Homo sapiens: one gene and its partners. The protein of the gene in region 1 purifies or fractionates together with the protein of each later gene. This does not show direct contact. Each region holds a gene or a part of one and is shown on either strand. Other genes may lie near its edges.

The links.
Region 2: the proteins of TMOD1 (region 1) and NIN purify together in Homo sapiens (affinity purification with mass spectrometry; 3 studies listed by BioGRID and IntAct, with this or other methods). This does not show direct contact.
Region 3: the proteins of TMOD1 (region 1) and LRRFIP2 purify together in Homo sapiens (affinity purification with mass spectrometry; 4 studies listed by BioGRID and IntAct, with this or other methods). This does not show direct contact.
Region 4: the proteins of TMOD1 (region 1) and DBN1 purify together in Homo sapiens (co-immunoprecipitation; 3 studies listed by BioGRID and IntAct, with this or other methods). This does not show direct contact.
Region 5: the proteins of TMOD1 (region 1) and TBC1D4 purify together in Homo sapiens (affinity purification with mass spectrometry; 3 studies listed by BioGRID and IntAct, with this or other methods). This does not show direct contact.
Region 6: the proteins of TMOD1 (region 1) and SCIN purify together in Homo sapiens (affinity purification with mass spectrometry; 4 studies listed by BioGRID and IntAct, with this or other methods). This does not show direct contact.
Region 7: the proteins of TMOD1 (region 1) and FLII purify together in Homo sapiens (affinity purification with mass spectrometry; 4 studies listed by BioGRID and IntAct, with this or other methods). This does not show direct contact.

The regions. Positions count from the first base shown.
Region 1 is NC_000009.12:97,595,312-97,599,412, reverse strand, and holds part of TMOD1 (tropomodulin-1), read right to left. Parts: intron 1-4,101. UniProt on the Homo sapiens protein: Blocks the elongation and depolymerization of the actin filaments at the pointed end. The Tmod/TM complex contributes to the formation of the short actin protofilament, which in turn defines the geometry of the membrane skeleton.
Region 2 is NC_000014.9:50,757,908-50,762,219, forward strand, and holds part of NIN (ninein), read right to left. Parts: intron 4,005-4,312; coding exon 3,883-4,004; intron 2,453-3,882; coding exon 1,950-2,452; intron 724-1,949; coding exon 1-723. UniProt on the Homo sapiens protein: Centrosomal protein required in the positioning and anchorage of the microtubule minus-end in epithelial cells. May also act as a centrosome maturation factor.
Region 3 is NC_000003.12:37,055,578-37,059,889, forward strand, and holds part of LRRFIP2 (leucine-rich repeat flightless-interacting protein 2), read right to left. Parts: intron 3,334-4,312; coding exon 3,213-3,333; intron 1-3,212. UniProt on the Homo sapiens protein: May function as activator of the canonical Wnt signaling pathway, in association with DVL3, upstream of CTNNB1/beta-catenin.
Region 4 is NC_000005.10:177,459,648-177,463,959, reverse strand, and holds part of DBN1 (drebrin), read left to right. Parts: intron 1-1,533; exon of another isoform or gene 1,534-1,728; intron 1,729-3,256; coding exon 3,257-3,316; intron 3,317-3,404; coding exon 3,405-3,528; intron 3,529-4,219; coding exon 4,220-4,312. UniProt on the Homo sapiens protein: Actin cytoskeleton-organizing protein that plays a role in the formation of cell projections. Required for actin polymerization at immunological synapses (IS) and for the recruitment of the chemokine receptor CXCR4 to IS.
Region 5 is NC_000013.11:75,286,670-75,290,169, forward strand, and holds part of TBC1D4 (TBC1 domain family member 4), read right to left. Parts: intron 2,442-3,500; coding exon 2,265-2,441; intron 357-2,264; coding exon 123-356; 3' UTR 1-122.
Region 6 is NC_000007.14:12,622,266-12,626,577, reverse strand, and holds part of SCIN (scinderin), read right to left. Parts: intron 3,778-4,312; coding exon 3,685-3,777; intron 1,569-3,684; coding exon 1,436-1,568; intron 817-1,435; coding exon 728-816; intron 1-727. UniProt on the Homo sapiens protein: Ca(2+)-dependent actin filament-severing protein that has a regulatory function in exocytosis by affecting the organization of the microfilament network underneath the plasma membrane.
Region 7 is NC_000017.11:18,246,288-18,249,311, reverse strand, and holds part of FLII (protein flightless-1 homolog), read left to right. Parts: intron 1-110; coding exon 111-185; intron 186-428; coding exon 429-512; intron 513-590; coding exon 591-762; intron 763-1,278; coding exon 1,279-1,383; intron 1,384-1,463; coding exon 1,464-1,655; intron 1,656-1,954; coding exon 1,955-2,143; intron 2,144-2,259; coding exon 2,260-2,399; intron 2,400-2,483; coding exon 2,484-2,718; intron 2,719-2,849; coding exon 2,850-3,004; intron 3,005-3,024. UniProt on the Homo sapiens protein: Is a regulator of actin polymerization, required for proper myofibril organization and regulation of the length of sarcomeric thin filaments. It also plays a role in the assembly of cardiomyocyte cell adhesion complexes.

The DNA of each region.
Region 1 (4,101 bases):
ATCTGCTAAGTGGCTGACCACACAGTCCCACGTTATAAGTCGGCTATTTTCTTTGCTTACAGAAGCTCCAGTTGAAGATCTTTACTCCGGTGTTCAGATAAGAGTTAAAAGTTTAGTCAGTCTTCTTAATGAGATTAGGGTCTTAACCAGGTGGAAACATTTCCCCCAGCTATGTCTGGGAGCTCCTGGCCTACCTCCTGCCTATATAAACGAGAGTTTCCACCCGAAAGATTACCCTGCAGTATCTGTATCCCCTTATGTTTAACCTTGCCATTTTCCCCGGGGGCAAGACAGTTATGCTCAACACTGTTCAAGTGACAAAGTAGTTAAATGCCATGAAGAGGAAAGCACTAGCCAGGAGGTTGCAGGCTGGAGACGTTAGCTTAAAGGATGATGAGGATGCAGGGAGGGGCAGGAGGGGCTCTGTTTGTTGTAACAAGGGAGAGTGTTTTGAAATTAATTGTAGTGTCTGCAGATAAGACCAAGCAGCAAGCTCTATGAGCCACAAGAGAAAGGTCAAAGAAGTCTGTAGAGCCAGTAGGTGGCAGTCGAGAGGCCTGCTGGTGTTGGCAGAGACAGGAAGCTATGGTGGAGGGAAAAAAAGTCCGTCTATACTTAGATGTCTTCAGGTTCCCAAGCTGAGGCGGTAGACCTGCAGCCACCAGATCGATGAATACGAGCTGCAACAAAAACCAAATCAGCTTGTGCATGACACTGGCCATACAAAGCAGACCCACAAGGGAGGTGGGGCCAGCCCAGTTCCTTAGATGATCAGAATGTCCAACTTCTTGGGGGTAGATGTGAGGGGACAAAAACCAAAACCCAAAGAGCACAAGAGGTTTGCTCAACGTGACCAAAGAGTTTACATGAACCAGACTTTTAAGCATCTCCATAGTAGCTGTGCAGGCATGCCCACCAGGGCCATCCTCATTGCCTCATCGGAGCCCCTCCAACGCTGCTGGAATGTTAGTTACCATTCCCATTTTATGGATGAGGAAAGTATGGCAGAGAGGGTATATTTCTTGCTTAAAGCAATAAAGCTAGTACCAGACAGGACCAAGCCTTTTTTTTTTTTTTTTTTTTTTGAGATGGAGTTTCGCTCTGTCACACAGACTGGAGTGCAGTGGCGCAATCTTGGCCCACTGCAACCTCGCCTCCCAGGTTCAAGCAATTCTCCTGCTTCAGCCTCCTGAGTAGCTAGCATTACAGGTGCCCGCTGCCACACCCGGCTAATTTTTGTGTTTTTAGTAGAGATGGGGGTTCACCATGTTGGCTAGGCTGGTCTCGAATTCCTGACCTCAAGTGATCCCCCACGCCTCAGCCTCTCAAAGTGCTGGGATTACAGGCATGAGCCACCGCACCCAGCTAGAACCAAGACTTTTGACTCATCTTGAGCCTCAGTCCAGTGCCTCCCTCAGTAGACTTGAGCCTTGTGTGGGTAGGGTTTCCATATCCATATCGCATCTGATTCTCACAGGGAGGATTAGCTCCTTCTCCCTGCAGAAGAAAAGAGCCCCAGTCCCTGAGAGCTGGCAGCAGAGCCAGGACTGAAATCCAAGTCCCTGGCCCATGGTTGAGGGAACAGAAAGGACCCTATGGCTTGGTGGGGGGGTTATTTTCCATTACTTGCCCTCATTGTGTCCACTGGGCCGGATCTGTGTGTGTGTGTGCATGGTTCCCCTGGCACTGGCTTGCCTATTTTTTTTTTTTTTTTTTGAGACGGAGTCTTGCTCTGTTGCCAGGCTGGAGTGCAGTGGCCCGATCTTGGCTCACTGCAGTCTCCGCCTCCCGAGTTCAAGCAATTGTCCTGCCTCAGCCTCCCAAGTAGCTGGGACTACAGGCATGCACTGCCATGCCCAGCTAATTTTTTGTATTTTTAGTAGAGACAGTGTTTCACCATGTTGGCCAGGATGGTCTTGATCTCCTGACCTCATGATCTGCCTGCCTCGGCTTCCCAAAGTGCTGGGATTACAGGCGTGAGCCACCCCACCCGGCCCCCTGGCACTGGCTTTTTCAGGGACTGGATGGAGAGAAGGGAAAGGCATCCATTTATTCAGGTATTATTTTTTTCCCTTTTTAATGATGAAGGAAGTTGAGACCAGGAGAGGGAAGTAACTTATTCCAAGTTACGAATAAGTCACAAAACTGGGAGTAAAAGCTGGGTCTCCCAATATCCTCCTTCAATTCTGTCTGGTCTTTACTTTCTTTAAAAAACTCTTCACTGCTTATTGCAAGAGCCAGAGACTCCTTTTATTGTGAATGCCAGAAGGGCTCTCCAGTCGTCCGGACCAACCTCCATCTGCTGCTTGAACTCCTCTGCCACTTCTTGCCAAATTTGAACATTTCCATCATGTTTTTGGAAAGCACTTTCTATTCATTTAAATATTCGGCAGCATGTACTGAGTGCTGTGTGCCAAGCACAAGAATCAGAAGTAAAGACACAGTATAACAGGAACCAAGATATACAATGTTTGAGAACTACTGTTTGAGAAATATGAAGTATTAGAGATGCCCTGGCAGCTCTCTGAGGTATGAGAGGCATAAAGAATGAAGTGGTCAGACCTTCCCAGGTGGCAACTAACAGGTCAGCTGAATTTTAAACAACAAAAAGGTAGAGGATGGGAAGGTGGGGGGCATTGGGAGTAAAGACCCTCTAAGGGTAAGCTTTTCCTTGGTCACTTGGGGGCACTCAGGCTACCTGGAATGGTAGTAACATGGCAAAGGGATGGCTTGTTGGAGATGTCAAGAGACGACCTCCTGATGGGACCATCTCCCAATGTGGAGCACCCAGGCACTGGAGCCACATTGCCAATTCAAATCCCGGTCCTGCCCACGGATTGTGGGTAATGTTAATTACCTACTTCCCTAGACTTCTGTTTCCTTCTTGTAAAGTGTGGATAACAATAGCACCTGTCTCACCTGGTTGTGGGGAGGACTACATGAGCTAGTGAGATGGGAAGTATTCAGAACAGTCTCTAACACACAGTAAGTGCCATGTAAGAGTCAGCTATTATTAAGAGACTTGGGAGTCATTTCAAGGGGCCTGACTGAGAGCAATGGGAGGCAAGTGAGGGTTCTAAGTGGAGGGGTGACAAGGCAAGCTTCGGAAGGAGACTTGGGATGAGTGCCAGGGGTGCCTGCCCTGGAGGAGCTGGGGGCCTGAGGATGTTGGAGGAGATAACTGTGACGAGGGCTCAACATACACGGCAGGACACTGGGATTGGCAAGGAGGTGACTGGCTGGCTGGGGTGGAGGCAGCATCTAGGAACAGGCCCAGATTTCTGGCTTGGGTGGCTGTGAGGAAAGGAGTAGCCTTTTCTTTTTTTCTTCTTCTTTTTTTTTTGATGGAGTTTTCTTGTTGCCCACACTGAAGTGCAATGGTGTGGTCTTGGCTCACTGCAATTTCTGCCTCCCGGGTTCAAGCGATCCTCCTGCCTCAGCCTCCCAAGGAGCTGGGATTACAGGTGCCTGCCACCATGCCCGGCTAATTTTTTGTATTTTTAGTAGAGACAGGGTTTCACCATGTTGGCCAGGCTGGTCTCAAACTCCTGACCTCAGGTGATCCGCCTGCCTCGGCCTCCCAAAGTGCTGGGATTACAGGTGTGAGCCACCGTACCTGGCTGCCTTTTCTGAGATAGGTTTGGGGGACTATGATGAAACTGATTTGGGATCCAGCAGTCCCACTTCTGGATATTTACCCAAAATATTAAAATCAGTTGAAAAGATGTTTCACTCCATGTTCATTGCAGCATCATTCACAATACCCAAAATAAGGAATCAACCTAAGTGTCTATCAACAAGAATGGATAAAGAAACTGGGGGATATATGCACAATGGAGTACGATTCAGCCTTTTCTTTAAAAAAAAAAAAAAAAAAAAGGAAATTTGTTCATTTGCAACCACATGAGTGGAATTGGAGAACATTATACTAAGTGAAATAAGCCAGCCACAAAAAGACAAATTATATGTGGAATCTAAAACAATTGACCTCATAGAAGCAGGGAGTAAAACTGTCATTACAGAAGCTGTGGGTGGGGAATGGGGAGATAATGGCCACAGGATACAAAAATCTCAGTTGGACAAGAGGAATAAGGTGTTTTA
Region 2 (4,312 bases), on another chromosome or scaffold:
TCTCCTATCACCTGGCAACCACTCTGAAGCATTGAGAGAGGAGATGTTGCCTGCTGCATTTCCTTTATTTTACTCTGAAGTCTGGAGATTTCTGTGCTCATCTCGGCTCTTTCTCGATCTGCTGTCTCACAGGTCGCTTTGTGAATGTTCTCCATGGCTAGAAGCTTGGACATCATTTCCTGCCTTTCCTGGTCATGTTCCATTTCTAGTCTTTCCAGCCGCTGGCTGGCCAGCTGCTCCGAAGCCCCTGCCTGGCACAGGACCTCCTCACGCTCCCTCAGTTCCCTTTTGTGACTGCTCTTCAGCTCAAGTATCTGGTCAGACAGCAGGCTTTGCTGGGTTTCAGATACATTTCTTAGGTCTTCCAGGTCTTGGAGTAGCTGCTGTCTCTCGACGACCATGCTGTTCAAATGTTCTTTGTATGTTTTCTCCAGCATCTCTCTCTCCTGGGTCAGGACCAGAGAAGTTGTTTTCTCTCTCTTAAGAGTCTCTTTCAGCAGCTCCTGGGCTTCCGCACACTCCTGGGTGAGCTCGTCCTTCTCAAATTCCCACTGGGATTTCTCCTCACGCTGCTGTTCCTGGAGGTCCTTCAGCTCTTGGCGGTAGCGCCCCTCCAGGCTTTGCAGAGCGCTTTCACACCTCTCAGTGACTTTCTGACAATCAGACTGAAACTGGGCTTCTATTTGAGAGGTTCTTCTATTACACTCTGTTTCCATTTTTTCCCTAAATATAGTCAACATACAGCATTATTGAAACTGCCGCCAACTCCAGAAGCAAACAAAAACCATTTTCCCATGCACTGAGAAAGCTGCTGAGCAAACAACTGAAATACTCCCTAAAAATGCTCTTAACTTACTCCTATGTGATTCATTTATACTGGAAAGGGATCTCATTTCTGAAAGCTAAGACTGGCAGCCATAATTCATTTAAAAGACTTACCTCTCTCTGGAGTTAGGGGGAAATCTTAGAAACTAATTTCTCTGGCACACTCCCGGATGTATTTGTTTATGGATTTTTAAACCAAAGACAAATGACCAAATGTATATTAATCTAATTCCTCACTTGGGAAATATATACCATTCCTTCATTTTAATTAAGCATGCGTTATAGGATATCAGTCACATAAATGACACATATGAACAAATTCATTCTGCTTTTGCTTCTTACTTAACGAAGTAGCACCAAGTCAATCAGCGTGTGACGAAACAAAGCCCTCAAATAAACCTGGGATTTCACATGAGGAATGTAAGCATGGAGTGCTGTTTCTTAACTCTGGGAGGAAATGTAACCTTGCCTGGAATCCAGTTTATTAATAGCTTTTCTCAGAAAGCAACAGGATTGAACTAGGAAGGAACCACTTTTGGGATAATCTTATCCTCCTCTTGAGCCTTATAAGGTAGAATAAATCTTAATACGAGGAATACTTTCCTCTTTTACAAACATAACAAAATAAAAACAGTTCCAATCATCCCAAGGTAGGTTCACATCAAAATAATGGCAAAAACAGTAAAAAAATATTTAAAAGAGTCTACTCAATCAATGGGCTATTATGCCTTCTGACTTCTTCAAGTCTCTTAAGCGACTGGCACTTTTTTTTTTTTTTTGAGACGGAGTCTCGCTCTGTCGCCCAGGCTGGAGTGCAGTAGCGCGATCTCGGCTCACTGCAAGCTCCGCCTCCCGGGTTCACGCCATTCTCCTGCCTCAGCCTCCAGAGTAGCTGGGACTACAGGCGCCCGCCACCACGCCCGGCTAATTTTTTGTATTTTTAGTAGAGACGGGGTTTCACCATGTTAGCCAGGTCTCGATCTCCTGACCTCGTGATCCGCCCACCTCGGCCTCCCAGAGTGCTGGGATTACAGGCGTGAGCCACCGCGCCCAGCCACAACTGGCACTTCTAATGCCCCGAGGGATGGTGCCCCAGGTAGCTTCATTTCCCTTCACTTTCTTACCTTCCCTCCTGAAGCTCCCTTTGGTGCTTTTCCAAGAGCTCTTTTCTTAACTCCTCTTTCTCAAGAGTGTGTTTCTCCACCAGGCTTGTCAGCTGCTCCTGGTGAAACTGCTCTAGTTCCTGAGTCAAGCCTCTCACCTTCTCTTCTGTCCAGGCGCTACTCTGAAGGCCTTCCCTCTCCCGCTCAAAGCTTGCTTGAGCCTGTGTCAGTCTAGCCTTGAGCTCCATCTCATGTTGCAGCCTCAGCTTCTCCTGCAGGTGAGTCTTTTCCTCCTCAAGCTTCACTTGCAGTTGTTTTTTCTCCTCCTCATGCCTGCAAGTGGCCTCATGATGTGCCTCCTTGAGCACTGCTGCTTGCCCCTGAAGTTCAGCAATTTCATTTTTAAGGTCACTTATTTGTTTTTCTAAGGTGTGCGTTTCGTTCTCATGCCTTTGCTTCATGTTCTCCTGTGCCTTCTTGCAGCTGACCACGGTTTCGTCCAGCTGCTTTTCATAATGGCGCACCTGAAGGCACAGAGTGACACCACCACAAGATTACTCAGCTCAAGGTCACTGAAAGTGAAGTGATGGAGCAGCAATTGCTTTTTTTTTTTTTTTTTTTTTCCCTACAAGACATTTCTCATTTCTCTATCTTGTTTTAAAGTAACTGAATTCAACACTTTAAGCAAGATACTTAAGTCAGGCATGGTTTACATATCTCTTTTAAGTGGCTGAATTTTATTAGTGTCTGAACAACCTTATTAAGAACTGAGCAGCCATTACACATAGCTACCCTCTGTCTTCCCATGCATCCTTTCCAACTGTAAACTTGAGTCTTGGAACATATATATTTTTTGAGACAGGTTCTCACTCTGTCACCCAAGCTGAAGTGCAGTGGCGTAATTATGGCTCACTGAAATCTCCATCTCCTGGGCTCAAGCAATCCTCCCACCTCAGCCTCCTGAGTAGTTGGGACTAAAGGCACACACCACCGTGCCCTAATTTTTTTTTCTTGGTAGAGACGGGGTCTCACCATGTTGCCCAGACTGGTCTTGAACTCCTAGGCTCAAGTGGTCTGCCCACCTCGACCTCCCAAAATGTTGAGATTACAGGCATGAGCCACTGTACCCTGCTGGGTCTTAAAATACTTAATTAAATTCAAATATTAATTGAACACCTATCAGGTACTTGCAGGCCTCGGAATACAACGCTGGGTAAGATATGGTCCCTGCTATCCAGGAGAAACCAGTCTAGACATGGATATGACAACTATAAGTACAGTAGGAGGCAGAAAATAAAAGGTATACAAAAAAGAGCTACAATGTAACCCAGGGACTCAAAGGAGGGAAAAAAATCACATTTTAGTTGGAGAAATTCAAGAATGGCTTCATGCAAGAGGCAGCATTAAATATAAATCCTGAAGGGTAAGTAGACTTTCGAGAGGCAGAAAGAAACTAATATCAGCATAGTTTGTAACAGCACAAGCAAAAGAGGACAGAGTGTGATGGACAACTAGGAACTACCCAATTTAGCTGGAGGATAAGGTAACTCATAAGAACGGTCAGTTGAAGTCTGGACTGGAAACGTCAGTTGAAGTCTCATGGTGAAGAGTTTAGAGGCCAAGGTTCAGAACTTGTACCTAATTTAGTAGGCAATGAAACATCAAAGGGCTTTTTTTGGTTTCACTGAGATGTTTTTAAAAAAGAAATTGGGAGATAATATAATGGGTTTCAAGCTTCAAGTTCCATGATTGCCAGGGCTGAAGATATTACATTTTGGAGAAACTCTCCAGAAAAAAGGGGCCTTGCTGTCAGCCTACAAAACCATCCTGAGGATGTGGGTTCCCAACATAGAATGTGCTGCTCTATGAGAAAAAAGAATTGGAAATGCCCTACACACATAAGCCTGTCAGAGCCAAAAGAAATTAGAGAAGTGGATTGGTGGGAAGGACTTACTTTATCTTCGAGCTCCAGTCTGAGGCAACATATGTCCCTGTGATGTTGTTCTTTCATCTGTTCAATGACCAGCTCTGCCTCAATGCTCATATTCAATGGATTGCATTCTTCAGAACCGAGCCCTGAAAACACATGGGACTCATTGATCCTGCAGCAGGTTCTTTCAATAACACAGTGTGGCATCTGAGGAGGGACATCCAGTTTAACTAAGGAATGATTTTCAGCCTGAATTACCAGAGATGTGAACTAATAGGAAATAACAGAGGCCAAGAGAAGTCTTTTCTCTTTTCAAGCGTTAGGGCAAACAAGAAGAAATGAAGGTGAACAGATTCTTTCATGTACAGGCAGTGGAAAAAACCTTAATAGAATCCATCTCTTAGAATAGTAGGTGGTGGGGCGGCGGGGGTGGAAATTGTTGCTTATAGGTAGC
Region 3 (4,312 bases), on another chromosome or scaffold:
AATTACAAAATACAAATGCACACACAACAACCACAGCATCTTCAGCAGCCCAGGTTCTGGACTGTATATACTACAAGATGCTCTAGCATATATGTTACTACAGTATCCCTTGCAGCAAGAGTTAGAAGAAAATTCTTTACCCTATGATATGTGTGAGCAGGGCTTGAGAAAGGAGCCCTGCCAATTCAGCAGCAGCCCCTACCAACCCTGTGTGTAACCTTGTGGAGCCTCCCTGCCCACGGGACTGGGCCCTCTAGTTCCCTGAACGCGGCCCCATGCCTTCCCATCTCCCAGGTTTTGCTTCTGCTGTCCAATACTGTAAGGGTCCTTTTCTCCCACCTCTGACTTGCTTCAAGGCCAAGCTCAATTTTCACCTCTTTCATGACTCCCCTTAATTATAAGTCCTTCCCTTGCTGTATTTTATTTGCATTTTTATGACATTTGTCATGCTTTTTAAACATCGTATGTGTAAGCAAGAAGAGGGGCCCTGTCTTGGCCTTCCTAAATCTACCTATGTACCTAGCCAAGTGCACACAGTGTATGCCTAAATAAATATATGTTGGAATAAATGCTGTTCAGTAATGTGATAATGTGTTATGGGTAGAGCTATAAGTTACTAGATGAACATCTGACCTAGGAAGTAAATCACTTAAAATGAAAAGTTTAGAAATGATGGCAGGGGACTTTTAAAATCCCTCCAAGAATCCAAGTTTAGCAAAAATCAGTCTCTGGCATGATTACAGTAATAAGATTTGCAAAAGATAAACCAAATCTAACATACCACAGGAAATATTCAGATTATCTAACTTAAGAACTTTTCTACATTTCCACATGACCAAGGTTACAATTACTTATACAGTCTTCAATGTGAGAGGTTTTTCTTTTTTTTTTTTTGAGATGGAGTCTCGCTCTGTCGCCCAGGCTAGAGTGCAGTGGCGCGATCTCGGCTCACTGCAAGCTCCATCACCCAGGTTCACGCCATTCTCCTGCCTCAGCCTCCTGAGTAGCTGGGACTACAGGCACCCGCCACCATGCCTGGCTAAATTTTTGTATTTTTAGTAGAGACGGGGTTTCACCATGTTAGCCAGGATGGTCTCGATCTCCTGACCTCGTGATCCACCCACCTCAGCCTCCTAAAGTGGTGAGAGGTTTTTCTAATTGGACAATTACTGTCACCTTAAAAGGAACAGGGTTACCATCTCCCCAAAAGCCATATCTGGTAGTGAAAGAGAAGTATTCCTATTTCTGAGCCCTAAAACAAGCTTCAGGATCTGATTTTTAAATTGTTATCCTCAGCAATCTATTGATTATCCAAATGTACTTCTTCCTTCTCACTCTCCAAACCACCTTTCCCTTCCTGTTTTCAAAAGTTTAAGTCTCTTATCTCAGTAACTTCATGTGTGTTTTGAAATCCCATTCCAAAACACTCTCATAATAGGCAAGGCACCATCCAGAACCAAGAGTTGCTCCACTCCTGGCCTTCTGGTCCAGGGAAGCTGCTTGCTTTTGTCTTTGCCAGCTTTCCCACAGTCCTGCAAAGCTCACTTTGTTCTACACCTCCTGCCTGGGTACTTTACCTTCTGCAAATACCAGCTATACAACAACCTACCTACTCTAGGAAGTATTCACACATAAATGCCAGCCCATTCCCCCTAAATCTGTTTCCTTTTAAATTTGCTGCTTAAGGACAATCTCTCAGATCTATTCCCTACCCTCTCTCTAAGACTGCTGACAGCTACTGAACTGGTTCAGGCTCACCACTGTAGTAGCTTCCTAACTAGTCAGCCTGCCTTTTCCCATGTCCCTGTTCTCATCTACCGCCAACACCAAAATGACATTCTTGAACAAAATATTCACCAGGAAATGTCACAAGTGTCCTAACTGATGTCCAACAGAAAAGATAATACCAATATCAAAAGTTAGTATTAATAAGCCTTAACCCAAAAAGTCTTTTCTCTTTTTTTTTTTTTTGAAGAGACGGGTTTTCACCACATTGCCCAGGCTGGTCTCAAACTTCTGAGCTCAAGCAATCCACCACCTCAGCCTCTCCAAATGCTGGGATTATGGGTGCGGGCCACCACGCCTGGCCCCAACATGTCTTTTCTTGGCAGCCTATCTCAGAAGGTTTAGATGAAAAGTCCATGGAATAAACAAGATTTTAATATTAGTTATCAGAAAAGTCACTATTCTTATTGGAAAAATGAAAATCTCCTCTGTCCGAGAATTACACATAATCACTAACAAAGGCTAACTACAAATTCCTGCTGAAATCTTCCTACTATGGGAATTAGTGTGACTGCAGTGATCATTTTATTATGAGGTCAGAAGTAGAAAAATGAGAAAAACTGGAATAATTCGGGTAAAATGAATAGAATAGACTTTATTTTGTGGACTTATTTTAAATTTCATCTAATAAAGATAAACTTGGATTAACAAAATACTTCTAGGAAAATTCTGAAACTACTCAATTTAGTGTGAAGTAGTTCCAAATAGATTCGTCCAATTATCCAAGACAAATTCCAGAGAAAAAACTTTAATGGGGAAGGGTGCTTGCTGTATGGGAGCTTAAAGATGACAAATGGATGTGGAAAAGGACAGTGCCAGGTTGTCAAAAGGCATTTCACTGTGTGCAAAAAGTTCCTAGAAATCACTTTATCCAGAAAGGGTAAGAGCAATAAACCTCATTATCCCCTGAAGCACACAGGCTAGTGGAGCCTCTATTCAGCTATATTGCTGACTAGGACTGTTTTTCTGGACTAGCCAAGGACTAACCAATTTTTGCAGCATAGCTCTTCTTAAGAAAAGCATATTAACGGCCAGGCGCGGTGGCTCACGCCTGTAATCCCAGCACTCTGGGAGGCTGAGGTGGGCAGATCACCTGAGGCCAGGAGTTCGAGACCAGCCTGGTAACTATGGTGAAACTCTGTCTCTGCTAAAAACATAAAAAACTAGCCGGGCATGGTGGCAGGCGCCTATAATCCCAGCTACTCAGGAGGCTGAGGCAGGAGAATTACTTGAACCCAGGAGGCAGAGGCTGCAGTGAACGGAGATTGCACCACTGCACTCTGACCTGGGTGACAGAGTGAGACTCCCATCTCAAAAAAAAAAAAAAAAGAAAAGTGTATTACAAGATACCAGCAACCTGCTGACAAACCCACCCCTGGGACACAGTCTATATACAGACTGGGACTGGCCTGTCCCCTGGTACCTACTCTGCATTTCGATGAACTGCAAGTCTGAGCCATTCTGCAGTCCTGCCAGGTCACCCACTGTGCCATCATTCCTGGAGCATTTCTGTCGTTCCTCCTCTAACTGAAGCTTCAGTTTTCTAATCTGAAATGAAAATAAAGGTTCATCAGCAAGATCCAATCTCTCAAATGAAGCCGATGCTTATTCTATGGTCACATCATAGAACAAAGCAGACCCTTATCGTATCAGCCACATTCATTCAAAACCTATTTTCTTGAGTGCCTAATAGGAGACACACATCGTCCTAGGTGCTAAAGATAAGCTACGAACAAACATCGAAAAGAGCAAGCCCCAGGACCAGGTGTCCCAGTAGAAAATAGCCATATTTTAAATTTGTGTCTGCTTATGGAACAGTACATCTTTGGGGTATTTTTTGTTACTTTTATTTAAAATGGAAAATTCTAGCCAGGCATAGTGGCATGTACCTATGTATCAGGCTACTTGGGAGGCTGAGGCATGAGGATCACATGAGCCCAGGAGTTTGAGACCGACCTGGGCAACACAGTGAGACCTCATCTCTAAAAAAAATAAAACAAAAATATAAACAGTTAACTGATAGGGTATATTCAAGAGATTATTTCTTAAAATGGAAGATTCCATGAGCAGTTTTTTGTTGTTTACTTTTAGACATAGGTTAAATTTTCTTACTTAGAAAACATCCTGTATGTAAAAATAATTGGGGCTGGGCACGGTGGCTCACGCCTGTAATCCCAGCACTTTGGGAAGCTGAGGCGGGCGGATCACAAGGTCAAGAGATCGAGGCCATCCTGGCCAACATGGTGAAACCCCATCTCTACTAAAACTACAAAAATTAGTGGGGCATGGTGGCACGCGCATGTAGTCCCAACTACTCCAGAGGCTGAGGCAGGAGAATCATTTGAACCTGGTAGGTGGAGGTTGCAGTGAGTGGAGATCACATCACTGCACTCCAGCCTGGTGACAGAGCGAGACTCTGTCTCAAAAAAAAAAAAAATAATAATAATAATAATTGGATACATAGAGATGGCTTCCCCAGCTGTCCTTAACTCCACCAACAGGGGTCAAAGGGAGGCCTCTGCACTAA
Region 4 (4,312 bases), on another chromosome or scaffold:
TATTTTTAGTAGAGACAGGGTTTCACCATGTTGGCCAGGCTGGTCTCAAACTCCTGACCTCAGGTGATCCTCCCACCTCGGCCTCCCAAAGTGCACTGCACCCAGCCCTGATAAAGTTTATTTTTTTGCTAACATTTCAAACATACACACATGCAGGTAGACAGAATAGTGTTGTGAACCCCCTGAGCTGATTTATTTTCACCAGTTATCAACATTTCAGGTAAAGTCTGAAGGAGCTTACCATTATTTTATAGTCCCATCTGGCCCTTCAAGTATAGTTCACGTGAGAGTGACAGTGGACATTCTAGCAGGTCAGTGTGGTACCCTTTCAATTTCAGGTCCTCTAAGGAAGGGAATATGCGAGAGACTTTGGGATTTAGCACTGTGAAATGCTTTCTCTTGGCTTAAGGAGCTGTTGCTTTCTCTCCCCTGTTACGAATTGTGTTCCATATCTGAGTTCCCTTTTTGCCTGGCCTGCAGGGGAGCTCCCGTGTATCTGAAAATGCTTTAGGCACAGCAGTGGCTTTGACCCATGTGGTTAGTGCGTTGATCTCTCTCCTCCCTCTGGGCCTTACTTGTTTCAGTGTTCACATGGTTGGTAGTTTATTAAAGCCTTTGTGGAGGGCTGGGCTCAGTGGCTCATGCCTGTAATCCCAGCACTTTGGGAGGCCAAGGCAGGCGGATCATGAGGTCAGGAGATCGAGACCATCCTGGCTAACATGGTGAAACCCCGTCTCTACTAAAAAATACAAGAAATTAGCCGAGCGTGGTGGCGGGCGCCTGTAGTCCCAGCTACTCGGGAGGCTGAGGCAGGAGAATGGCGTGAACCCGGGAGGCGGAGCTTGCAGTGAGCCGAGATCTCGCCACTGCACTCCAGCCTGAGTGAAAGACTCTGTCTCAGATTAAAAAAAAAAAAGCCTTTGTGGTAGTTGCCTCTGGTCCTTTCTTTGAACAAGGCAGAGGAACCAACTGAGATTACAGCAGGCAGTGGGCAGAGCAGCAAAGGCTGGTGGGACACAGGCTCATGGGAAGGTGAAGAGCCTAGGCTGACTGGAACCCCGTGGGCTGAGGAGTGGGGGAGATTTGATTGGGAAAGGAGAGCAAGGGCAGAGGAGGAGTTTAGACTTCATTCTGGGGGTCACAAAGTTATCACTGAGGTGATAGCCCTCCTGAGGTGGGATACTACGAAGGGCCCTTCTCCCAGTGCTCCTGACATAAGCTAAAATTTTAGATTATAGGCTCAAAAACAGAGCAGCCCTGGGACTTCACCACCTTAGCAGCCCCTCCTGCCCAAGCTGCCACCTGAGCAGCAGGGGACACCGACTAAGAAGCCTTTGGTGTGTGAGTGCAGTTGAGCAAACATGCGCCCGCCTTGTGCTGGCCACCCACCCGGAGACCCCGGTCCTCATCCTGCGTTGCTCACAGCGGAGGGGGGAGGTGCCTCCGGAAACAGGAACTTAGGATGTGGTGTCATCGTGGTGGAAGCCAGGAGCACCCTGTGGGGACCCAGAGGAGGAAATGACCTGAACAAGCCTCTTGTTCAGAGGTCCTTCCCCAGGAAGCAGTGGCCACGCTGCAGCTGGAAACCAGAGGGCCTGGCCCCCGGGTGGGGAGCAGGCATTTGGGAGGGAGGCCAGTCTCCCATGCTGAGGCTTGGAGGTGGGAACGGGTGTGCCTGTTCTGGGAACTGACTGCGTCGTGCTGAGGACTTGATGTCTACATCTCACAGTATGTGGGAGCCTTGGGGTGGGGGCCGGCAGGGGGTGGTGTTGGAGAGGTGACGGCTAGGTCAGGCAGGGGTGGGGGACGTAGGCCAAGTGCGGGCGCTGCCCACCCAAAACAACGTGTGCAGTGGGCAGGTGAAGCCAGTAGGCGATGGTGGGGCCGGGGGTGAGCGGGTGGCACACGCCTGTCTTAAGGGGGCTGCGGCGAGGCCCCGGTGATGGCTGCTCCGGGCTTGCAGGTGATGTCGCCAGGGCTCTGTCACCTCAAGAGAAACTGGGACCCTCATCTCAGTATGAAAGTTCCTGGTTTTTAAGTGGTGGTAACTAATGAACATGGTTTAAAAATATCATACCAGCAAAACAAAAGCCATCTGTGGGTCATATTTAGCCAGTGCTTGCTGTGGCTCATGGGAACCCCTGAGGGATTTTAAGCTCAGGAAAATCATGGTCTGATCCGCATTTTGGAAAGGTCCTTTCAGGGCCTATGGAGAGCAAATAAGGCAGGTAGCAGTGAGGAAGGCTGGACCATGATGCCACGGTCCAGGCAGCAACATTGGGAGCATGGTGGCCCCGGCACTAGGGTAGGAGGTCCAAGAAGTTATCTGCAAAACAAGGAGCACTTCTGGAGGGCCCTAGGCACCTGCTTAGATATGGGGATGAGCAAGTGAGTGAGTGAGCCTGGTGCCCAGAGGCCTGGCAGGTCAGAGATGAGGTGGCTGAGGGCCCTGAGGGAAGAGAGGGGCTGTGTGACAGGGTTTGACGGGGCAGAGGTACCACCTCTGAAACCCTTCCTGCCAGATTGCGAAAGAAGCATGGGGGCTGTAAGAAGGCCAGAAGGGGCCGGGCGCGGTGGCTCACGCCTGTAATCCCAGCACTTTGGGAGGCCGAGGCGGGCGGATCACGAGGTCAGGAGATCGAGACCATCCCGGCTAAAACGGTGAAACCCTGTCTCTACTAAAAATACAAAAAATTAGCCGGGCGTAGTGGCGGGCGCCTGTAGTCCCAGCTACTTGGGAGGCTGAGGCAGGAGAATGGCGTGAACCCGGGAGGCGGAGCTTGCAGTGAGCCGAGATCCCGCCACTGCACTCCAGCCTGGGCGACAGAGCGAGACTCCGTCTCAAAAAAAAAAAAAAAAAAAAAAGAAGGCCAGAAGGCCGGGCACTGGTGGCTCATGACTGTAATCCATCCCAACACTTTGGGAGGCCAAGGCAGGAGGATCCCTTCAGCCCAGAAGTTTGAGACCAGCCTGGGCAACATAGGGAGACCCCATCTCTACCAAAAAATTAAAATTAGCCGGGCATGGTGGTGCACACCTGTAGTCCCAGCTACTCGGGAGGCTGAGGTGGGAGGATTGCTTGAGCCCAGGAGGCAGAGGCTGCAGTGAGCCGTGATTGTACCACTGCTCCCCAGCCTGGGTGGTAGGGCGAGAACCTGTCTTAAAAACAAAATCAATAAATAAAATACAGTAAAAAAGAAGGCCAAAAGCCCCTGTGGGGGGTAGGTGCACCAGACACTGTCCCTTTGGTTTCTAGGGTGACCATCGGGATGAGGAGGAAGAGACCCACATGAAGAAGTCAGAGTCGGAGGTGGAGGTGAGAGCTGGGGGCACCAGCCAGGTGAGGCAGACAGGGCTATCTCAGCTTGCCTGGCCCAGCCCCAACCTTTTCCTCGTGCCCTCAGGAGGCAGCAGCTATTATTGCCCAGCGGCCTGACAACCCAAGGGAGTTCTTCAAGCAGCAGGAAAGAGTCGCATCGGCCTCTGCGGGCAGCTGTGATGTACCCTCGCCCTTCAACCATCGACCAGGTAGTCCTAGGCCCCACCCCCCGTCCGGCCCCACTCCTCAGGTTGCGGCCCTGAGCCTCTCTGGGACTCTCTCAGAAGGGAGGCCTTGCCCAAGCAACCCTTGGAGAAGGCGAGACCCTTCATCCAGCGTGCATCCGCCCACCACTTCCCAGGTGGCAGGACCCCAAGAAGGGCCAGGGATGGTGGTGAAGTCGCTTGTGGCTGAACAGTGGGGAGTGCTAGGGCCTGTGGGGCAGCTCTGGCATGGGCTGAGGCACAGCGCTGGCCACGGGGAGCAGCTCGGCTGGGGTGAATTAGGTCTGGCCTGGAAGGCCGGAATGCATGCGTGCTGGGCTCTTGCCCCGGGCCTGAGGGAGCCTCCCGGAGCTTGCACCCAGGTGTCCCCGTTCCGCTTCTCAGTGTGCTGCTTCCGCCTCTCCTGAAGCTCTTCCCTGCCCTGTCTGCTGGTCTGAGTGTGCTTGCCCCATGCTGGGGTCCCGCCACAGGCCGTCCCTGCTGTACTGCTCCCAGGCTGGCTGTGTGTCTGGGGCTGGTGTGAGGCTGCGGCTGGCTTGGCTGATTGTGCCCCTGGCTGAAGGCAGCTTGGACATCCAGGGCCAGGCCCTGGGGGCGGGAGAGGCCTCGGGCAGGGGTGGGGGAGACTGACCCTCTCTTGTCCTCTGTCTCTTTCTCTGTCTGTCTCTCTCGGCAGGTCGTCCGTACTGCCCTTTCATAAAGGCATCGGACAGTGGGCCTTCCTCCTCCTCCTCTTCCTCCTCCTCCCCTCCACGGACTCCCTTTCCCT
Region 5 (3,500 bases), on another chromosome or scaffold:
CTCAGCACCAGTATTAGGTGGTTCCATCAGCTTCAGGGTCCAGCCTTGGGCCAGCGACATGCAGGCTCTTCCTCTCTGTAGTATTCTAAGGAGCACTTTCTGCTGAGGCCGTGCCTCTTCAATTATGGCTTATTTCCTATCTTGGCTTTGTTGTTAGGGTTGCAGTTTAGGTCTCTCAGCAACAGGTCACAATTGACTAGAGCATCCGCGGGCAGCAGCTTCCGGAGTTGCTCCACTGTCTTTTGATAAGCCATTTTTTCTTGTTCCAGGGTCCGGATTAAAGACTTCATTTTGGTCTCTCTCGTCAAAAGATTTTCCAGGTTTGATTCCAAGGCCTGGATTTTAGTATGAGCTACCTGTTTGGGGGGGAAAAAATCCTCCAAATCAAATGATTCATTATAGTAGGAGACAGTCCTTACACATATTAACCAATTACTTCAAATTACTTAATAAAATATTATGTGAAGCAAATACTCTGAAAACCTACAGGAAACGATGATTTATTAGGTTTCACAAAGATGTAACTATGGAACTACCATGCTTCATCTCTTCTCACTGAACACACGAATAATTCAATACTAAATCACCCCCCTCACCAACAGTAGGAATCCTTATTCTACACCCACTGGTGTTCCCCTGAGTGAGTGGGATCTGGCCTGGCTGAAGGAGAAACAGGAGATTCCTGACACTATTGCAGTGCTAAAAGAGATTTTCCTTCTCTGACTGAAATACGGCGTTCTCTAAACATACACTTGGGCTTTCATCAGTATTTATAGATGTGAGGGGTGGCCAAGTAACTGATGATGACTACACTGAACTGTCAGTGAAAAAGTCTACAACAGTTCAGACGAATCATTATAAAACAGGTACAAACCCACCTTCCCTAATAAGGGGCAAATAATTAATCGCCATTGACCTATCCAACTAAAAATGGACAATATACTAACCATTTAGTTTTCTTTTTGAAAATAGAGTATGTTGCCCTTTTTTGAATAGAAAAAAAGATTTACATTTTCTATGAGCCAGAGCCAATGTAAGACAAAGCGAAGGAAGTTTAGTGTTCCCATTCTTGGGAAGCAACTACTTTAGAGATCCCTCATTTCTAACCTGTCTCTCTTGACTGGTCTTGACAGGGGACTCACCATATAGAAGCAGAGTTTTAGTGTTTTCCAGTTTGTAGCCAGGTGCAGTGTTGGGGAAATGGAGAGGAGGAGTAAGTGGAAACCGAGGAGCCATTAGACACTGAAACTCCCCTGAAGTCATCTCCCCGAAGACTTCAGAAGGGTCACCTGCTAGCCCCCATCCTGTGATCACTCTTAAGCCCCTCCCCTCAGGGCATGGCTACATAGCACACATCATACAAGTTGCAAATACCGAATATGACTTTATAATAAATTTCTTATTGCATGTATAAGTGTGCGCTTAGAGACAGATATATAGTATTTTATATTCTCAAATAATTGTGAACTCCCTGATGGCAGGAATGATGTATTAATATTACATGTAACATTTGCATGGGATTCAATTTACCTAGACATGTCTCCCTCTCTTCCAATTTCCATTTTAGTCTAGACAACTCTCATCATCCGCAACAGATTTTCACAAGTGACTTTTAGCAGGCCTCCTTACCTTCTCTCCCATCTCAATCTGTCCTCGTCAAGGTTCCCAGATTGATCTTTCTACAGCATGGCCCAAAAACTTTGAGAGATTTCCCTCTTGACAGGATTAAAGCCATGTTCTTTGGCTTGACACTGAAAGTCACTTACGATTCTGCCTCTATCATATTTACCCTACCTCTCCCCAACCTCTATCTTAAATTGACACTAGGCTAACTTTGCTGCTCTGCCATGTCCTTCTGATTGATGCCACCCTCCTACTCAGCCTGACTTAAAGACCCTCCTCACTCATTTCTTCCACCAACCCTCCAGATTCCAGCTCAAGCCCAGGTCCTTCACAACTTCATCAATTTCCTACATTCAATTCCTCCTCCCTTTAATTTAACCAAATATCTATAACATGCAACAGGTATTTAAGCAGATTCCACTTTGAACTGCCATTTAGCTATTTTGTGAGGGTGCATTTTTTTCCAAGTAATGTTTAATTTAACATGTCATTTGTAGCCCCAGAGCACTTGGACAGTCTGATACATGGGCTCTTGGTTAGCAATGGTTCATTCCACGCACATATCCCTTTCATTCCTGAGGTAGTTCTGTGCATGCAGGAGGCATTGAAGTACTTATTTGCTCAAATCTTTATTTCTTTACCTGTAATTTTTCTAGGAGGTCCATGTTTTGTCTTTTCAGTTGGCTATTGGCCCTCTCCAGCTTCTCCAAAGTTTCACTATCCTCACAGGAATATGAAGATTCCTGAAGCTCATCCTGTAGCACATGATATTCCACCTCATAGGCATGCAACTGCTTAGAAATATCCATCTCAAAAACCTGCCATGAAAGTATCATGGGTTAGGCTAGCCTTTGGTATGTATAACAAGATACAGCCTGTTTATCTTGGTATATTTCATGTATATTTCCAAATACTTATTAATGAAGAACATTAAAGCATAAAAAAGCAAAAAAAAAGTGTAACTGTCAATACAAGAATAAATTAGATATAGTTTACACTGTCAACATAAAAACAGATAGCTCTTTCTGTGAAAGAAGATTTTCTTTAAAAACAGAACAGATAGATTATTTCTATGCAATTGAAACATTCTCATGAAGCTAAGTCCCTAGAATAAATTAATGTCCAAGTGTATTTGGCAGCTAAGATATTCATAATCTAGTAACTGTCTCCCAAAATGTAGTATACTAGATAAACAACATTAGTTATTGAGTAATTATTATGTTAGAGATAATCTCTGCTGATTAGTAAGCAAAATTGCATAGGGTATTACTGTAATAAAGCAACCAAAAGCATTTCTAATTTATTTGCCAATGGAGCAGAAAGATCTTAATAAAATTTTGCATCCATTTGCTATTCCCTGTAAGCCTCTTAAGAGTCATTTACATATTGTACCACACAGAGAATCCTCAAAATTGCACACTGTGAGCACTGTCCAGGGCTGTAAGGTTTAATTAGGGCTGCTACTGCTCTCCCATGTCACCACTAAATAGGAAGGTCGTTTGCTTTGAAGCTAGAGGACAGTTACTCCAAACTTCCTAGGGGGAAGGAGAGACAACAGCTGCTATTCAAGCAATGGTGTCTATACTAACACTGAGAAGAGAAAAGAAACCACAAAAAACCTGACTTACTCTACTACTTACTAATAGAGATACTCAAACATTCGAATTTTAATAAGAGAATTTCTAGACTAACTGGTTATCCTCAAATAACCATCATCTTTTCCTTACTTAGTGGGTATGGATACAATGGATTATTATACAACCATTAAAAATGATAATATGGATTTATAGTTACTGGAAAAAATCTAATACTTTATATTTTTAATTATAAATCAGGTTCCACAATAGTATATATAGTATGATTTCATTTATGTACAA
Region 6 (4,312 bases), on another chromosome or scaffold:
TTTAAAATAATAATAATAGTAAACAGGAAAATAAGAAATTAAGGGAAAATATGAATCTGGCAGTGGAGACAAAAGTAAGGAAATGGAAAATTATCCTGGTTTAGCTATCAAGCTCATATAATCCAAAATTGCTTTTTCTCACAACTAAAGTAATTGCCGCTGAATTTGAATATTTGAGAGAAGAATCAAGTTCTTTAATATGTTACCCCTGCAGTAAAATAAGTTTGTCTTTCTACATAAGGTTCACAAGAGCTCTGTGACCTGGAAGAAATGATCTCATTGTGTTCCTTGTGCAGGGACATAAAAATGAGGAGAGTAGATGAGGCTGAGAGATTCGGAAAGGAAAGGAGTAACTAGCCAGGGTCTAAATTGATTTCGATGAAGACAAATATCATCTGGGTTTCAGGCCAAGTCTGCACAACTTGCTCTAAGGAATAATAACTCTTAAGTGCTCTTAGCTAAACCTACTGTGGTTTACTATCTTGAATTAAAGGCTGTGGAGGAAGTGAATGGGCAGCTCTATGGAAAGTCTGATGTGCAGTTTCTAAAAAATTCTAACCCCCACGCAGATAAAGAAGAGGGACACCAGATTGCAGCAGACAGGCAGGTGGAGAATCACTTCACATACAGACGTTACTTTGACCCAAACTTTTTCATGAGTTTCGTGGAGATGTCATGAGCTCCAATGTTTTCTATTTTTTTCTAGCCAGTTCAGTTTCACACATACTTGGGTATTCTTGGAATAATTCATTTGCTGTAGAAATTCTTCAGCTGTCTTCATTGCAGCCTTCCTCTCTTGGGGATTAGCATCTTTACCTAAAATACAAGGTAAATTAAAGAGAAAGAACTTCAGAGAAGGAAGACATTCTATGATTAAGAAATACTTGTGTACCATAATAAACATGATTATAATTGAAGTTAAATACAGCAGTGAAAGAATAGCAAAATTGGCCGGGTGCGGTGGCTCACGCCTGTAATCCTAGCACTTTGGGAAGCCAAGGCAGGTGGATCATGAGGTCAAGAGATCGAGACCATCCTGGCTAACACGGTGAAAGCCCATCTCCACAAAAAATACAAAAAAATTAGCTGGGCGTGGTGGCGGGCTGCACTCCAGCCTGGGCGACGGAAAAAAAAAAAAAAAAAAAAGAATAGCAAAAATTTCCTGGTATATTAAGTGTATTTAACAATACAGGAAAAAACGTTATTTGTAAAACAATTCTTTTTATATTGCCCAAATGCTTTTTTTTTAACTCCATAATCCCTGGTATATGATGTTGGTAGGAGGAAAATGGCTGCATTTTATGTGAGACATTTATAGATCATGTCTTAATTAAAAGGTGGGCTTTTTTTTAAAATCAAAAAATATATTTTATTTACCCTTATAGAGGAAATATCTATAAATCTGAAATACAGCATCGTCAATGGAATTTTTTACCTTTCCATACGAAAATTTGTTTGGCAGCCCCGTGGTCCAAAATAAAGCATTCTTCAGACAGCAGCATTGCCATTGAGAAGGGGTTTTCTTCTGCCACCACAGTCACTCTCATGGAGCCACTTGCATCTGAAACCTAATATAAAAACCATGACCTCCATGTTTTCATTTGGGGATGATAAGGATGTTCTATAATTAGATTATGGTAATGGTTGTACAACTCGGTAAATGTCATCAAATAAAAAGCATTGAATTGTACACTTTAAATGCAAGAATTTTATGGTGTATAAATTATATCTCAATAAAACTGTTTCAAAGAAAATGAAAAGAATCCACAAGACTAATTATACTCTAATTTTTTTGAAAGTCCTTTGGGGTAAAGGAACTACAAATAAAAAGTTAAGTTTTGACACTGTGCCTAAAACATCAGAAAAGAATAGTGATAATAATAATGGCTGAGGTCTATTCAGATGCTCTTATGTACTAAGCATCATGTAATTAACTTTCCATGATTATTTCTTGTACATTTTAGAGTAATCTTTTCAAGTAGGTAATAATCTTAAAATCATTACATACACACAAGATGAAGTTTAAACAATCACTCAGTCAACATTTACTGTCTACCATATACCAGTCGCTTTGTTAAGGAGGATATTGATATAGTTTATGCACAAAGATTTTTTCAACATAGGTCCTGCAATTTAAGTAAACTTTGTATAAATTATCAAAGTAAATTTCTTCTGTCACATTTAGAAATGACTACAGACTATTAAAACAAATTTTTAAGTGGTCTTACAAAATTGAAAGTGATATTCATGTGCAGGTTAGGATTTACTGGTTTTCAATGGCCAGCTTGTATGCTACAGTTTAGTTACCTATTATACAGATTCCAGAGCCCTCCCTAGATTAGTGGAGTTTTGCAGGACCAGGGTGGAGTCTGAATTCTGTAGTTTTGAAAATGCCCCAGGTGATTTTGCTTGCCAGCCTTGTTAAGAAACCCGAATTATTTTCAAAGGAACTTTATACTTTATATCCATGTAATACAGCATAGCTCCACTAGAGGAAGCTATGACTCAGGATGAATATTTTCCCATTTAAAAATACTTCTTTAGTTCATAATGCTGTCCAGGAGGGAGAACAGTTTTGGTTGATGATGTGAAATAAAAGATATCTGTTAGGCTGTTGAAAATGAGTTTTAGAAATAGTAATTTTTAAAAGCAGTCACAAAATATTTAGCTAACACTTTCTGTATGGCTCATATTAAAATTACCAGTATTTAGCAGAAATGGTAACCATATTTCCTTTTGCATCTAGAAGAAAAAAAATCCACTTATTCATTATGAAAAGGAAATTACGCTAAACAAGTTATTAATTTGGTCTTCATGTAAAATCACAGAGTTTCGGAGCCAAAAATCCCTTAAAGAGCAGCAAATATAGTTTCTTTCTGTTACAGATGAGAAAACTACTAAATTCTGCATGGAGATTTACGATCTGCTCCAAATCACACGCTTAGAAAGTTGCAAGGGGAGGGAACACTGGAAGAATACCACTGTAGCAACCTCCTTAACTGGAGTGTCTTGCAGTTTTTGTTACCCTCAACAGAAAAAACAAACAAACAAAGAATAAAAAAAACTATAGAGTTGGAAGGAACCTACTTTCTTTGTTGTGTGTGCATAAGAATACTTAGACCCAGAGTGGTTATGTCCTGTGCAAAGTCATGCTCCTAATCATGTGCTATAGAGCTGATATGGAAGTAGGTAGGTTAATGCCTGGAACAGAACTGTTTTTACCCTGTTTCCCTCCAGCTGTTTCATTTGGTAGCTCAGCCCTCCTGTAACAAAGAACTCCTTCATTATGGCTAAAGACAATGTTTTAAATAGGGTGAAGACTTTACATTCTTATCAAGAATTTATAAGAAAAAGCTGATAAAATATTTTTACTCCATAAAGGAAACATTGTATTGAGTATTATATATCAAAAGATCGTTGCAAACTAGTACAGCAACAATATATAATTTTATGAAGTCACAGCAATAAGTTCACATATTTGTTGTTTTTCATAAAAATAACAAAAAGTATTAAAACTTAATTAAAAAAACATACAAGAGCAAAGAACTGATTCTATCTACACATTGCTCTTGGAGAGCAATGAGGAGAGTTCTCAACTGCAGCAACGGGAATCCCGCCCAATACAGGCCTCCCTAGCTACATCCAGTACTGTTGAAACAATAAATTTGGTTACAGTGAACTCACCATGTATAGTTTAGCCATTTTCCTGTTACTTATGTCTGCTATAATGTCATCATCATCACCTCCATCTGGAAGCTCTGGCTTTTCCCCTAAGACCTGGAAAAAAGTGAGCAGTGGATGCAAAGATAAAGATCTCCCATTGAAGGATGCAGAGTTAGAAAAATACACTTATAAAGACATGGATTATAAAATATTTGCAATTAAAATGACCAGGCTCAAACACTTCTCATCAATGCATACAAGGTAGTCCTTTTCATATAGGCCAAATCAATCAATTGCATTAAGTAAACAAGCACTGAGGTTGCTTGTTTGCAACCTCAAACAATGAATTTCAAGAAAGGAAAATCCCTAATTTGAGAGCCTAGGTGTCCATATTACTGAAAGCTAGAAGGAATTAATTAAAATTTGAGCTCTATGTTCAGCTCTGCAGCAGAATTTCTTCTATGACCTCTGCTTCTAGAAATAATCTCTCAGTTTTATGAGTTTATTATAATAAAGATTTGAATCAAAATTACTATTTGGAGGTAAAATACTACTATAATTATTGACATATAGGATGAAGTGCAAGCTCTTGATCACCCAAATCATGCTTCGTTTTCTGCTGTATCCTTGGCACTTGGAACAGTTCTTG
Region 7 (3,024 bases), on another chromosome or scaffold:
GCAGTGGGGGGTATGGACCTGGAGTCTGCTGGCAAGGGGTGGAGGGGAGGGTGTTGGGGCTAAGTTAGGCCCTTGGTGCCTACACTGAGCCACTCTTGCCCTGCGCCCAGGATGTATCGTGTGTATGGGAAAAAGAACATCAAGTTGGAGCCTGTGCCCCTCAAGGGGACCTCTCTGGACCCAAGGTGAGCCCCAACAATGTGAGGTGGGGGTGCTTCATCCTCAGCCTCCTCCCCACCAGTGGGGGCAGGTGTGGGCCTCTTAGAAGAGGAGGCCCTCTAGCAATTCCTGCCCACGAGCTTGGCGGGGGGTCCCTGGGGCTTACCCAGAAACCCCATAGTGAGGGATTTTTTTTGGTGGGGTCAGGAGCATGGGGTGACCATTGCCCCATGCACCATCACAGCTCCTTCCTGCCCCTTCTTGTCCAGGTTTGTTTTCCTGCTGGACCGAGGGCTAGACATCTACGTATGGCGGGGGGCCCAGGCCACACTGAGCAGCACCACCAAGGCCAGGTACAAGGACACCGTGGGGTCTTTTGTGTGAAGGAAAGGGGTGTGAGCCTCGCTGATGACTTTGCATCCTGCTCTCAGGCTCTTTGCAGAGAAAATTAACAAGAATGAGCGGAAAGGGAAGGCTGAGATCACACTGCTGGTGCAGGGCCAGGAGCTCCCAGAGTTCTGGGAGGCACTGGGTGGGGAGCCCTCTGAGATCAAGAAGCACGTGCCTGAAGACTTCTGGCCGCCGCAGCCCAAGCTGTACAAGGTGAGCCCTGCTGCTGAGGCCCACCTTGGCCTCCCAAGTTCACCCACCGACTGGGGGAATGGACTACACACCGATGTAGTTGGCTTTGGGCTCCATCTCGACTTTGGTGGGGAGAGGGTGCCACCTTCTGGACAAGGAACAGTATGAGCAAAGGTCTGGAGGCTGCTTTTGAGAAGTAGCCTCACGGAGTCTTTCCAGGATGGTGGGGCCGTAGGGGAGACAGAAGCACCTAGTGCCAGGGCTGGGAACCTTGGCTCAATTATCTAGATTCTTGTGAACAGGAAAGGGACACGTTAATTAGAAATGGCATGAAGGGCCTGGAGAGGGCAGGCAGGGAAAACTCCATTTAAAAGCCCTTCTGAAAGGATATCCCTAAAAAGACCTTGAAGGGGAGGGGGAAACAGAAGCAGTCAGTGAGCCACGCTGCAGGGCAGGGCTGGTTCCAGAGCAGAGGGCTGTGTGGGTGAGGTTCCTGTCTCCAGATCCCTTCCCTGCCATGCTCATCCTTCCTGCCAGGTGGGCCTGGGCTTGGGCTACCTGGAGCTGCCACAGATCAACTACAAGCTCTCCGTGGAACATAAGCAGCGTCCCAAGGTGGAGCTGATGCCAAGAATGCGGCTGGTAAGAGATGCAGGAGGAGGGCGTGGGGCCAGATCCCTCCCCGTTGGCTGGGCTTTGACCTCCAGACTCCCGGTCCGCAGCTGCAGAGTCTGCTGGACACGCGCTGCGTGTACATTCTGGACTGTTGGTCCGACGTGTTCATCTGGCTCGGCCGCAAGTCCCCGCGCCTGGTGCGCGCTGCCGCCCTCAAGCTGGGTCAGGAGCTGTGCGGGATGCTGCACCGGCCACGCCATGCCACGGTCAGCCGCAGCCTCGAGGGCACCGAGGCGCAGGTGCGCTTGCAGCTTCGGAGGCCCCTCCCCAGGATCCTTCGCACCCTGACATGCCCTGACCCCTGTGGCTTCACTACCTCCCTACAGAGCTGGGCCCAAACCCACCTCCTCTTTGCTGACTCTGCCCAGGCCCCGCCCCCTCTGCAAGCTGCCCCTCCTATTCCTACCTCCGTGTCCGAGGCCCCGCCTCCCAAGCCCCGCCCTAGATCTCCCTTGGGTCCCGCCTCAAGCCTCGGGCTACTTCCTCCAACTCTAATCATGCCGCACCCCTCATGGTTAGTTGATGGCCTCCCTGGCAGGTGTTCAAGGCCAAGTTCAAGAATTGGGACGATGTGTTGACGGTGGACTACACACGCAATGCGGAGGCCGTGCTGCAGAGCCCGGGTCTCTCCGGGAAGGTGAAACGCGACGCCGAGAAGAAAGACCAGATGAAGGCTGACCTCACTGCGCTTTTCCTGCCGCGGCAGCCGCCCATGTCGCTGGCCGAGGTGGGGGCAGGGCCGGGACCGGGGCGCGGGGGGGGGGGTGGGGGGCAGGCCGAGGGCGGGGCCTATGCGCAGAGCGCGCTCAGACCTGCCGCGGGGCGGGTCCCTCTCACCTGCAGGCGGAGCAGCTGATGGAGGAGTGGAACGAAGACCTAGACGGCATGGAGGGTTTCGTGCTGGAGGGCAAGAAGTTTGCGCGGCTGCCGGAAGAGGAGTTTGGCCACTTCTACACGCAGGACTGCTACGTCTTCCTCTGCAGGTACCACCTCAGCACTCCCTTCCCCAAGTCCCTCCCCTGGTGCTGGGGGCTCGAGCCCCTGCTCACAACCTTCCAACCCGGCAGGTACTGGGTGCCTGTGGAGTACGAGGAGGAGGAAAAGAAGGAAGACAAGGAGGAGAAGGCCGAGGGCAAAGAAGGCGAGGAAGCAACCGCTGAGGCAGAGGAGAAGCAGCCAGAGGAGGACTTCCAGTGCATCGTGTACTTCTGGCAGGGCCGTGAAGCCTCCAATATGGGCTGGCTCACCTTCACCTTCAGCCTGCAAAAGAAGTTCGAGAGCCTCTTCCCTGGGAAGCTGGAGGTGTGCCTGGCAGCCCCGCGAGCCCGAGGCCAGGCGGAGGGGTGTGGTGGGGCTCAGACCCAGCGAAGGTTAGGCTCCCGAGGGGCAGGTGGGGGTCCAGGGAGCTGCCCCTAACACTTCCACATCCCCAGGTGGTACGCATGACGCAGCAGCAGGAGAACCCCAAGTTCCTGTCCCATTTCAAGAGGAAGTTCATCATCCACCGGGGCAAGAGGAAGGCGGTCCAGGGCGCCCAACAGCCCAGCCTCTACCAGATCCGCACCAACGGCAGCGCCCTCTGCACCCGGTGCCTGGCTGGGGGAGGAC